Linked DNA regions of Homo sapiens. The protein of the gene in region 4 purifies or fractionates together with the protein of the main gene of each other region. This does not show direct contact. Each region holds a gene or a part of one and is shown on either strand. Other genes may lie near its edges.

Evidence for each region. The genes of interacting proteins can lie anywhere in the genome.
Region 1: the proteins of ZIC3 (region 4) and RBM33 purify together in Homo sapiens (affinity purification with mass spectrometry; one large-scale study listed by BioGRID and IntAct). This does not show direct contact.
Region 2: the proteins of ZIC3 (region 4) and MYH14 purify together in Homo sapiens (affinity purification with mass spectrometry; one large-scale study listed by BioGRID and IntAct). This does not show direct contact.
Region 3: the proteins of ZIC3 (region 4) and MYO1C purify together in Homo sapiens (affinity purification with mass spectrometry; one large-scale study listed by BioGRID and IntAct). This does not show direct contact.

The regions. Positions count from the first base shown.
Region 1 is NC_000007.14:155,738,661-155,742,160, reverse strand, and holds part of RBM33 (RNA-binding protein 33), read right to left. Parts: intron 2,447-3,500; coding exon 2,135-2,446; intron 343-2,134; coding exon 55-342; intron 1-54. UniProt on the Homo sapiens protein: RNA reader protein, which recognizes and binds specific RNAs, thereby regulating RNA metabolic processes, such as mRNA export, mRNA stability and/or translation.
Region 2 is NC_000019.10:50,206,622-50,210,121, reverse strand, and holds part of MYH14 (myosin-14), read right to left. Parts: intron 1-3,500. UniProt on the Homo sapiens protein: Cellular myosin that appears to play a role in cytokinesis, cell shape, and specialized functions such as secretion and capping.
Region 3 is NC_000017.11:1,466,187-1,468,686, forward strand, and holds part of MYO1C (unconventional myosin-Ic), read right to left. Parts: intron 2,311-2,500; coding exon 2,217-2,310; intron 2,123-2,216; coding exon 2,067-2,122; intron 1,938-2,066; coding exon 1,802-1,937; intron 1,725-1,801; coding exon 1,654-1,724; intron 1,392-1,653; coding exon 1,294-1,391; intron 1,156-1,293; coding exon 1,056-1,155; intron 1-1,055.
Region 4 is NC_000023.11:137,569,127-137,572,602, reverse strand, and holds the end of ZIC3 (zinc finger protein ZIC 3), read right to left. Parts: intron 2,713-3,476; coding exon 2,533-2,712; 3' UTR 501-2,532; downstream 1-500. UniProt on the Homo sapiens protein: Acts as a transcriptional activator. Required in the earliest stages in both axial midline development and left-right (LR) asymmetry specification. Binds to the minimal GLI-consensus sequence 5'-GGGTGGTC-3'.

The sequences.
Region 1 (3,500 bases), on a different chromosome or scaffold from region 4:
ATTCTAAGGCTTCTTGTTTGAGACCAACATTTGTTAATAAGAGCAGTGTCCTACCTCTGTTTCTGTTTTTGCCTCTTCTTTAGGTTGAGCCACAGGGCTAGCTGGCTTGACTTTCACTTCCGTCTTTCCCTGTGAGCTTCTGGAACCCGCCACGGCCCGCGAGGGTGGTGACGCGCTGACGATAGGTTTCACTTGTGCTGAGGGCGTGGCAGAGCAGCGGCTGCTGCTCATTTCTATCACGTGTGACGGCGCTATGGGTAATTCACGCAAATTGCTGTTCCTTGGCGCAGTGGGCTGCATTTGCTGCATGGGCCGCTTGCTTACATTCTGAGAAGTTGTATTCTTTTCACAAAAAGAAAGAGATTCTAATTGTAAGTGGAAACTTGGCAGAAGGAACATTAAAAGGCACATTATTAAATAAAAACACAATAAATCATTCTAATTAGTAAATGACTTCTTTTGGGGAGCAGATACTTTTTTCTCATACTTTTTTTCTCATACATAAATGTCACCTGATCCATGTGGCAGCATGCCTCATCCTAATGTTAACAATTTCCATTGGTAAAGTTGTCATACTTGCCTACAGAGAGGCTCCTCTTCATAGAAATTACACCAGGCTGATCTTTAGCAGGTGCTTCAGTAAAGGGACTGACAGTTTTAAAAGAATTAAGACAGCCAAAAAACCACTCTATCTGCCACCAGAGATCAACGGGATTCACATGCTACTATTTTACCTAGTCACTTAAATTTAAGCTGGAACAAGGAAAGAATCAAGCATCAGGTCAATGTCCTAAGAAACATGACCCCCGGGAGAAGAAAGGTGCCAGAACGTTTTACTCGAGAGGAAATGCTTAGTCATATTCATCCTGGGGATTCTTAAGAGAGAACCAACACCTGGAGGAGGCAAAGAGAACACGAGAGAGCTGGAAGGGGGGAGGGGGGAAGCAGGGGGATCTCCGAGGTCCCGCAGGTCAAATATCCCAGTGCACGAGGGTCATGAGACTAGCCTACCATTATTCTAACAAATGAAACCCAGGTTATAAAGCACCCTCTTCTCAGATTTAGAAATCTTTTCTTACTGTTCACAGCACTTTAGTTGCAATGTTTACTTTAAGAAAGAAAGAGGCAAATATCAGGAAAACTGAGATTCCAAGCAGCTAAGTGACATGACTGAAGCTCAAGGGTGAAAAGAAGACAATACCAAAAGAAAACTGACAGGCGAGAACCCTGACCACTGACCACACTGTGTCTCTTTTTCTAAAAACCAAATTACAAAGTCTCATATATATTTAATGGAGGCAAGAGCCCTGACCACTGACCACTAGCCACATTGTGTCTCTCTTTCCTAAAAGCCAAATTACAAAAGCCTCTTATATATATTTAATGGAGGCAAAAACCCTGACCACTAGCCACACTGTGTCTCCCTTTCCTAAAAACAAAATTACAAAAGCTTCTTATATGTATTTAATGGAGGACAAGGGCAATGACTGTGGCCTTTTATTTTCAGAGCAATACATTGTTTCCCAGTTTCTTTTAATGCACGACAAGTCACACATTTGCTGATGGTGCTTGAGAACACAACCCCACAAATAAATGTATGCTAATCTCCCTCGACTGAGTATAAGCTCCTTGAAGGAAAAGAATTTGTCTCTTCTGTTCACTGCTGTATTTCCAGGACTAGAGTAGCACCTGGCAACAGAACAGTCAACGTATTTTTCCTGAATTCATTTATGTATTTATTCAGGGACCAAAAAGACAGAGATAATCTATACATCAAAAAATAAGCCACTGGTAAAGGGAAAGTGACTACCACCCAAAAGTATTTTCTAAAGTTACGTGTCTATTAATTCCTGTCTATTGCTATAGAAATATCTAGATACAAGAAAGATGCTTAAGTAAATATTAACACAGTCTTTGAGACACAAAAGGAGTATCTTATCAATTCTTGTAGTCAAGAAAACAAATCACCTGAGTGTTTTTTAAAACATGGATTCACTTCAGAACTATGTACTACACATTTTATAAACAGAAATCAGAACTGGAAAATATTCTAACCTACATATTATGCCCCTCAAGTCCTGTAAGTTAAAAGGCCTCCCAGGAAGACACAGGGAAGACACCCCTTGACACTTACATGCCGGAGCCCCTGGCGCTGGGGGCACTGCATCCGGCTGCTGCTGGCCTGAGGCTGAGCGGTCTGTACGTGAGGCCGGAACTGTGGCTGAGACATCGGCATCAAAGGAGGGGGCGGGACGGACAGGTGGTGGTGGTGGTGGTGGTGCTGGTGCTGCGGCGGGTGCTGTGGTGGGTGCTGGGGTGGGGGCTGGTGCTGGGGCGGGGGCTGGTGCGGGGGCTGGTGCGGAGGCTGGTGCTGTGGCGGGGGCTGTTGCTGAGGTTGCTGAGGCTGAGGCTGATGCGGAGGGGGCAATGGAGGATGCAACGGCCCCTTCCATTTCCAAAGAAAGAGAAACAACAGTTCATAAATGGTTACACCGGGCATAATCACTTCAATCATTTCCTAAAAAACCTCAACACAAGAAAGGAACTTTCAGCGATACCAAAACTTCATTTTAGACTTGCTGATGAAGGTAATACTATCTAAAATGCAGTAATAAGCCAGAAGCTATTACCTTAAATTTTATATTTAATCCAGTAATTCTAGGATTGAATTGTCCTAAGGAAAACTAGGTATGCAGACAAACTCATAACTCTAAAGCATGTTCCCTGTAGCACTATGATACTAAAGTACTGAAACCAGTATACACACATGCAACCACACAGACAGCATGAAAGGGAACCGCATACAGCACTCTCAAACGATGGCATCAAAACCAACTCGCTGACATGAAAAGATCAAATGATATGTGACACTGGAGGGAAAAAGCAGGTGGCGAGAAGATGTGCATTTAAAAAAAGACAAAAAAAAAAGCTCCTGAATTGTTTCTAGGTAACGAGAGTATTTAATTTCCTTTCTTATATATACTTGAAAATTTCTGCAATGGGGATGTATTAATTGCATTTTTTTAATAAAAAGAAAAATTCTTAAAAACATTTTATCTTCCTTTAACACCCTAGATAATATTCATTTTCCGTTTTTGGCTTAGATACGTATTCCACGTATTTTTAAATAGTTGATTCAAGTTTACCATCGCTATGTATTTTAATAGTAACCCTACAATACAAGAAGAAATATACACTTGGTAAGAAAGATGTTACAGACGCATGTCAACCCATGAAGCAGAAGCCGATGGGCAGAGGGCACTCAAGGCCTTCAAATAACCAGTGAAAACCCATGAAGCAGAAGCCGGTCGGCAGAGGGCACTCAAGGCCTTCAAATAACCAGTGAACAGCAACATCTTCTTCCCTCCATGCAAAGACTCTTTTCAAAACTGTCTACTGCAGGAATATAATTTGACAAAGTATTTCCACTGGTAAACCTCTCATGAAATTTTATACAGATGAGCAAATGTATTATCAAAACATGTCCTAATTTTATTAGT
Region 2 (3,500 bases), on a different chromosome or scaffold from region 4:
TTTTTTTTTTTTTTTTTTTTTTTTTGAGACGGAGTCTCGCTTGTTGCCCAGGCTGGAGTGCAATGGCGTGATCTCAGCTCACTGCAACCTCGGCATCCAGGGTTCAAGTGATTCTCCTGCCTCAGCCTCCCAAGTAGCTGGGATTACAGGCGTCTGCCACCACGCCCAGCTAATTTTTGTATTTTTAGTAGAGACAGGGTTTCACCATGTTGGCCAGGCTGGTCTCGAACTCCTGACCTCAGGTGATCTGCCTGCCTCGGCCTCCCAAAGTGCTGGGATTATAGGCATGAGCTACCACACCCGGCCCCGGCTAATTATTTTCTTTTTTTTTTTTTTTTGAGATGGAGTCTCACTGTGTCGCCCAGGCTGGAGTGCAGTGGCACGATCTCGGCTCACTGCAAGCTCCGCCTCCTGGGTTCACGCCATTCTCCTGCCTCAGCCTCCTGAGTAGCTGGGACTACAGGCGCCTGCCACCATACCCGGCTATTGTTTTCTATTTTTAGTAGAGACAGCGTTTCACTGTGTTATCCAGGTTGGTCTCGATCCCCTGACCTGGTGATCTGCCCGCCTCGGCCTCCCAAAGTGCTGGGATTACAGGTGTGAGCCACCGCGCCTGGCCAATTATTTTCAATTTTTGTAGAAATTAGGGTCTCACTATGTTGTCCAGGCAGGTCTTGAACTCCTGACCTCAGGTGATCCACCCTCTTCAGCCTCCCAAAGTGCTGGGATTGCAGGCGTGAGCCACCACTCCTGGCCAGGCTCAGTTCTGGGCACTGACAATGGAGCAACAGACAAGCTGGAAGAAGACGCCTGCCTCCAAAAGTTTACTTTCTAGCCCCGGGCTGTCCACTGCAGAAGCCACCACCACCTGTGCACTACCGGGTACTTGCAATGTGGCATGTGTCACTGAGGAAACACATTTTCAATTTCATTCATTTAAATTCAATCTATTTTATTTTATTTTGAGATGAGGTTTCACTCCGTTGCTCAGGCTGGAGTGCAGTGGTACAACCACGGCTCACCACATCCTTGACTTCCCAGCCTCAGGTGATTCATGTCTGAAATTTATTAATTAAAAAATAAATGTATTAACAGGCATGCCACCATGCCTACTAATTTTTAAATTTGTTTTGTAGAGACAGGGTCTTCTATGTTGCCCAGACTGGTCTCAAACTCCTGGGCTCAAGCGATCCTCCTGCCTTGGCTCCCCAAAGTACTGGGATTACAGGTGTGAGCCACCGAGCCCCATCTTAAAATTTAAATATAAATATCCCCATCTGGAGTTCTAAGTGTAAGATACACACCAGATTTCCAAGACTTAGTACAACAAAAAGATAGTTTGCTGAGATTTTAAATATTTGATGACATGCTGAAATGATAATATTTTCAATCTACTGGGTTAAATAAAATATATCATTAAATTAATGTTACCCGTTCCTTTTTTACTTTTATCATTAAATGTGGCTACTAGAAAATGTTACATTACACATCTGGCCTGTATTATATTGCTATTTGACAGAGCTGCTGTAATCCCAGGAGACAGATAAAAAGATTAAAAATGTAAATTAGATAGTATGGTTTTTGTTTTTTAAAAATTCTCTCTCTCTTTTTTATTTTTTTACAGAAACCAAATATGGTATGTTTGGTGGGTTTGTTGGGTTTTTTTGTTTGTTTGTTTGTTTGTTTGTTTGTTTGTTTTTGTTTTTTGAGACAGAGTCTTGCTCTGTCACCCAGGCTGGAGTGCAGTGGCTTGATCTTGGCTCACTGCAACCTCTGCCTCCCGGTTTCAAGAGATTCTCCTGCCTCAGCCTCCCAAGTAGCTGGGATTACAGGCGCATGCCTCTATGCCTGGCTAATTTTTGTATTTTTAGTAGAGATGGGGTTTCACCATGTTGGCCAGGCTGGTCTCAAACTCCTAACCTCAGGTGATCCGCCCGCCTGGGCCTCCCAAAGTGCTGGGATTACAGGCACGAGCCACCATGCCCGGCCAGATAGTACATTAAATGGTGATAAATACCAAGGGGAGGAATAAACCAGGGGACAGGAAATGTTAGGGTTGAGGATGTTGAAGTTTTCATTAGGGTGGCCAGGGAGGGCCTCTCTGGTGTGGCATTTAAATGAAGACCCAAGGGAGATGACAGGAGCGAGGAAGGGGGTTGTTGGGAGAAAAATCATTCCAGACAGCAGTGCAAAGGTCCTGGGGCCACAATGCATCTGTGTGGCTGTGTCACTGTGAGGTAGGCAGCATGGCTAGAGCCAAATGATCGAGGGGCAGAGGGTGGGAGGGGATGTAAGAGAGGGGACAAAAGGTACAACCTTGCTTTTACTCTAAGATATGAGCCCAGGGTGGGAATTGACCTGATTTTTGTCATTCAGGTTCCCTGACCACCTCTGGTCACGCCTATCTCATGCCTGCAGAATAGACTCGAATCTCACTGCTTCAGTGAACAATTCCTTCCTTCTCTGGAACCTGACTCCTTCTCCATAAAATGGGGAGACTGGACCCATTCATTCAACTCTCTGAGGACTTTCAAGTACGAGACTCCGCCCCGAGTGGGCCTGAGGACCCAGAGAAGAGTAGGCTGGGAGCCCTGCCTGGAGGAGCTCCTGGCCTAGGGGTGGATCCAGCTCCAGCTATCTCGGAGGCAACCAGGTGCTGGGGGAACTAGAATGTGTTAGGCCCCTCCCACCATCCAGCGGGCCATGGGCAGTAGTGGCAATTCCAACGCGGTCCAAGCACCAGGCAGGAAAAATATTCTCCCTATCCTGCTGCGTGGCCCCCTCCTGCTAAAGAAGTCTGCCCCTAGTCTCTCTCTCTCTCTCTCTCTCTCTCTCTCTCTCTCTCTCTCTGTCTCTCTCTCTCTTTCTCTCTCTCTCTCTCTCTTTTTTCTTAGAGATAGGTCTCGCTCTATTGCCCAGGCTGGAGTTGGAGTGCAGTGGCACAATCACAGCTCACTGCAGCCTCAACTCCTGTGTTCAAGTGATCCTCTCACTTCAGCCTCCTCAGTAGCTGGGACCACAGGTGCGCACCATCAGGCCCAGCCTTTTTTTTTTTTTTTTTTTTTTTTTCTGGTAGAAACAGGGTCTCCCTATGTTACCCAGGCTGATCTCAAACTCCTGGGCTCAAGTGATCCTCCTGCTTTGGCCTCCACAGTGCTGGGATTACAGACATGAGCCACTACGCCCGGCCCCTACTCTCATCCACTGCCTCAAATGTCCCCATCACTGCCCCACCACATCAGTCACAGAAACAGTGGGAGATTTCTGTCTCCCCAACAGCAGGACTTCACCTCTGCCCGATAGACCTATATGCAACTGCCGTCCCCACCTCGCTCCCACATACCCCTGGAGAAGTCCTTCTAAACGCCCAGCTGCCCTGGAGGCCCCCCTGGATCTGGTCCCAACAGACTCCTGCCTTTCCCTCAAGCCTCTCCCACGGGAATCCCAGCTCCGCTGAGAGGACCCACTTCCTCCCAGACCCTCTCCTCCCATCCCCAAGC
Region 3 (2,500 bases), on a different chromosome or scaffold from region 4:
CTCATTTTGTCACCCAGGCTGGAGTGCAGTGGTGAGATCTTGGGTCTCATTGCAGCCTCAACCTCCTGGGCTCAAGCAATCCTCTCATCTCAGGCTTCTGAGCAACTGGGACTACAGGCATACGCCACCACACCAGGCTAACTTTTTTGTATACAAATTCTGAGATGGAATTTTGCTCTTGTTGCCCAGGGTAGAGTGTAATGGCGCAATCTCGGCTCACCGCAACCTCCACCTCCCGGGTTTAAGCGATTCTCCTGCCTCAGCCTCCCAAGTAGCTGGGATTACAGGCATGCGCCACCACACTCGGCTAATTTTGTATTTTAGTAGAGATGGGGTTTCTCCAGTTGGTCAGGCTGGTTTCGAACTCCCAACCTCAGGTGATCCACTTGCCTTCGCCTCCCAAAGTGCTGGGATTACAGGCGTGAGCCACTGTGCCTGGCCTTTTTTTTTTTTTTTGAGATGACATCTCACTCTGTTCCCCAGGCCTGGAGTGCAGTGGCATGATATCAGCTCACTGCAATCTCCACCTCCTGGGTTCAAGCAATTCTCCCGCCTCAGCCCCCACTAGTAGCTGGTATTACAGGCGTGCACCACCACGCCCGGCTAATTTTTGTGTTATTAGTAGAGATGGGGTTTCACGATGTTGGCCAGGCTGGTCTCGAACTCCTGATCTCGGGTGATCCACACACCTCGGCCTCCCAAAGTGCTGGGATTAAAGGTGTGAGCCACTGCACCCAGCCTTTTGCATTTTTTTAGTAGATGGGTTTTGCCATGTTGGCCAGGCTGGTTTCAAACTCCTGGCCTCTGGTGATCCACCCGCCTCAGCCTCCCAAAGTGCTGGGATTATAGGCATGAGCCACCGTGCTGCCACCTTTACAACTTTCTGCACTGAGGGGCTCTCTCTGGCCCTCATGGGTGGGCCAAGGGATGGAAGAGGTGGTATGATGGCCTCTGGATGAAGGCCCATGGTGAGGTGCCTGGGCTCTGCCAAGCACAGCCAAGGAAGGCTTGGCTATCACAGCCAGGCCATAAGCGGGAAAGCAGGCCCCACTCACCACAGCCAGGTGCCCGTTCTTGGCCTTGGTGATGAGCAGCTCCGAGCCGGGTGTGAAGTCAATGGTGCCATCCCTGCCGGGGCCCCCTGCAAACGTGATGCTGGGGGAACGGGGTGGGTGAGGGTTTTTCCATGGAGGCAGACCCCCAACCCTAAGGTGGACCCCCACCCTGTCCCTGGGTGCCCACACAGCCCCCTCGCCACCCCCGCCCTGTCCCCGGGGGCCGCCCGCGCCTCACCTGCCCTGGTTGATGTTGATGCTGTTCACGCGGTTGGCACTGAGGGCTGTCTTGGTCAGCGTCTCAATCACGTGGTCACTCTGCAGCACCACATCTCCCTGGGGGGCCAGGCAGGAGGAGGGGTCAGGCCCTGCCCAGAACTTGAGGAACCCCCGCCCCACCTCCCCATCCACCTCCTGACCCCCAAATCCACCCCCATCCACCCTCCCACCTCCCCATCCACCTCCTGACCCCCCAATCTACCCCCATCCACCCTCCCACCTCCCCATCCACCCCCACACCCCCTATTCCCCCATCCACCCCACCTCCCCATCTACCTCCCCCATCCCCCACCACTCCTCCCCATCCATGAAAAGGCACCTTTTGCTTATTGTCCGCACGCTGTACATGAAGCACAAAAAGACTGTCGCTCAGGCTGCTGACAGAGATTCCTGAGGGGAGAGGGCAAAGGTCAGAGGTCGAGGGTCAGAGCAGGGCCCTCCCCCTGCAGCCCTGGACCCTGGCTGACCGGTCAGGTTGGCGTAATCAATCCTCTGCTTGACTTTGGCGTCCTCCACGATGACGACGGCGTTGGGCGTGAGCAGCAGCTGCCGGGAGCGAGGCTTGTAGCCCTTGCGGTCGTATTTCACAACAGGCACCGCATACTGGGGACAGAGGCCAGGCTGAAGGGGCTGGGGAGAGGCTCCCAAGGCTCCGCCCCTGCCCTGACCTGCCTTCAGCTCTCAGGCAGTAGCACCGTGCTGCTGGACTCAGGGCTGCAGGCAGGCTCTTACCTGAATGGGCTCAGAGCCCAAGGCCTGCAGCACTCGGGGGCTGATCTCATCTGTACCTGCAACTCAGATGGCGGGGAGGGAAGTCAGTGGAGGCAATGGGGGACCAGGATGGTGACGAAAGGTCTGAGTGCTGGAAAGTCAGGGGCTCACCAAGCCGAGTGCTGATGAAGAGCCTGGGTACACTCTGAGGGTAATTATCCTTCTTGCCCTTGAAGATCTCACTAGCCACGGCCTTCTGCTGCAGCTGAGGAGACAAGGGGGGTGAGGAGAGTGTCATGGTGGGGAGCACCATCTTGGGGGGGCAGAGCCAGCCTTAGGACCTGAGACAGCCTCCCTCACCCGCTTGCTGGTCCCTCTCTGGCTCAGCACCAGGAGGCTGAGCCCTGCCCCCCACACGCCCATCAACCCTCCACTTCCTGACCCTCTGCCGCCAC
Region 4 (3,476 bases):
TTTAGATTTCACAATGGAACACACTTAGAGCCAGTCTTATGAATATATACTTTCTGAGAACTTGCTGAGCATTTAAAATGGTCTCTGGTTTGAGGTGAAGGAAAAAGCCTGAAATAGGAATCTGGTCCAGCACCCTCAATGTCAAGGTCAAGATCGGAATGTCTGGGTTGGGAGTGATAGACTGACCAGGTTACCTGCTCATCACATGTGTAGTCATCCCAATCTCTGTTCATGGCATTCAGGCTTGGATATTGGTGGAAGAAAATGCAAAAGACCCCATTATTCTCCACTAACAAAAAATAGCCTCCAAAGCAATTTGCAATTAGAAACTGTCAATAACTAATTGTCTGTTGACAAAGATCAGTAGATAACTTAAATAGACTGCTTCAACCGCATTCACAGAATCAAAGTTTCTTTTAATCATCAGAAGTTCTGTAAGCATTTCAATTTTAGATTGATTTATTTGAACATGAAAAAAAATCAGGCACCAAATACAAAAATGTTATAACATAAATAAGATGTGCCAAGACTTTATTTCTTCAAAAAGAACAATAAACAAAATTCTAGAATTGAAAATGATCATATATAATACCAAATTGACTGCCACCAAAAACCTAGAGCATTGCCCCTTAAAGGAGGTACTTAAGCCTATTCAATACATTCTAAATACTTTACAATTCCTTATGTCCACCTTTCTGTTATTCATGCAGAGATTGGGCTCTCAATAACAAACAGCACCCTAATAAAAAAGGTCTCAATACTCTACCCACTCCAGCCCCCCAAAATAGCAATCAATTTCTTTTCCATATAACCACTGTAAAAGAACTGTTTGTCCAAATGAGTTGCTTCACTGAAGATTAAATGGATTGTTAACATTTTATCACAAAGCAAACAACCGTTTTTCATTGTTATTGATTTTAATGGAAACAATGCTCTTAACATCTTTGCCTACAAATCATGAACTTTAAAAATACATATTTTGCAATTTTTTTCCCATAGCATCATTTCAGAACTGCTGCAGTTATTACACCGCTATATAAATGTTATGGATAATTGCGATAATTATGAATTGAACTATATACAGCAAACAAATCAGCCTTTGCCTTCCAAAATTGTAAATGGACTATGGTTCTTTTAAGAAGCACTTTAACCATAAGTAAGCAATGCTCAACTGGCCTTACTCATCACCACTGTTTTAGACATAAGCTATCTTTTGAAAATATATAGATAGCTACTAGATAGATTGATAGGCAGATTAGATAAGTCATAGATACAAACATATATAGGTATATGGGTGATCTCTAGATAGAACAGACAGACATGCATCCTGCCGCAATTTTCATTTTTATGTAAGGTAATAAAGAACTAAGGGACATAAAATTCAGTAGGTTACCTTATGTTTATATATGTAGGGCAGGGATGATTAAATCCAGCTTCTCAGTCTTTGAAGTACAAGATTGAGATGTCATGGCCACTAACTGAATTGATCAGTAATATTTGATTTGCATGCCGAAAATCCAGGACAAACACATTTAAACTCGCAGTTAAACAACCATCTGAGATAGAGATAAAGAAAGGAGAGTCTTCCCAGATGGAAACTGACACTGTAAGGAATTTATACTGTAATAGAAAAATAATTTAACAATTAAAAAAGGGATCTGAGTGAGTTATAAATACCAACAAACAAGATTTAATTTGCTCACATCTCCTCTTTGTAGAAGAAGGCTGTTACAAAACAAGAGAAAGGAGTCAGTGGTTCCAAAATTGTAAATTGTGTTCTTCTTTCAAAACAATTTTTAATGCTAAAGCAGTTATAATCAAAAGCTGTACAGAATTTGTTAGAAAACATTTATCCATAAATATTGTTCAGTTCCCGGCACTTGTAGCAATAATTAAATTACAAACGATAAATATGGCATCAATGGATATGTATTTACAAAAAAAAAGTTATTACAAAAGGCAACTGTATACTAAACGTCACAATGTGTAGAGTAACATCACATCCTCAGCCTGAAAAAATACTGAACAACAGTTTCGACCCTATTAGACAAAAATACATTCACAAGTGTAATGCTTTGAGGAAAAGTTCAAGACATAACAGGACTTTGGCACGGTTTAAGACTGTGAGAGTTTAAACAATCACCACTAAGGCGAAAAAGAATTTCCATCAGTTTAACATCACCACCACCAACAAGCCTTCTATAACTTCCTCTCAAGAAACAGGACAAGTGTTAAAATGAATTGGAGGAGTTTAAGAATGGGGTGTGCAGAGAGCAAGAGGAAGGGGAAGAAAAAGTAGTGTAAAGATTTTGTAAAAAATGCTTCAAATGCCAAAACATATTTTCTATCCTGAGAAAAGGGCATGGCTACTTTTGGATCTTGCCCAAAACCTTCCTGGACAATTGCAATTAACAAGATGTAGCCCTATATATGGCCTCTTGCCTTAAAACTCCATTTCCATCTGATTGGTCTCAGTTTTCTTTTAAAAATGTATTTGGTCCATTCTATAATTAACAGGGTTTGTGTTTGTCCTCAGACGTACCATTCGTTAAAATTAGGAGGAAGTCCAGGGTTGTGGCTGGTGCTAGTTTGAACTGCAGAAGGGGTTTTAGTGGTATCTTTACTGTTTGCAGAAGCTATAGCGGGTGGAGTGGAAGATTCATAGCCTGAACTGGCAGCAGGGGAGGAATCTGACCCTTGAGATTCATGAACCTAAAATTAACATGTATATATTATAATGAATATAATTCCAACTGGCAATGTGCAAGCAAAAACAAGAGCAGAATTCGAGCACTGTAACAACAAGACCGCCCAGTGACCCACTTAAAAGAAAAATGCTGCTTAAAAAAAATCCGTATTACCGATGTCTAGAAAACCCGGAGATGTTCGCCAAAAACCAGTTTTGCTCCTAAGACTGGTGTTACGGAAAAGGAATAAAGCATTCCGTTTTGGTCATGCCACTTCAAAAATGCTTTCTCCGCGGATGGAGTGAGGTAAGCAGTACACTGTGAGGTCCTATAAAATACTAACTCCGGGCCCAGGTTTCACCAAGCCCGTTTCGGCTTGAGAAAGCAGGTACAGAGAAGGTGGCACAGGGGCCCTGAGCGCTGCGAAGTCGCAGACAAATGTGTGGGAATCAGATTGCACTCCTCGGCCCTATTGTTTTATCCGAAGCCAAAGAGCGAATGAACCACCCACCCTCGGGTTCGGCGCGGCTACTCTCGGTTCCCACCGCGGGCTGAGTCGGGAAGAGGCGGCCACGGCAGCCCCGCAAGCCCAGGCGAGCTCGGCTAGAGCTTCCCAGTAAACAACCGATTGTTCCCTCCGCTTCCTCCCCCTCCCAACTTTGCTCACTCCCGCCCACCCCCTCACCCCCACCCCCGCCCGGTCCCCAAAATGGGTTCAAGGTGTCACTGCTGGAGCAAATCGGATTTAACGTGGAAGACAGAGGGTTGGCAGCGCGGGCGCTTCCGTTC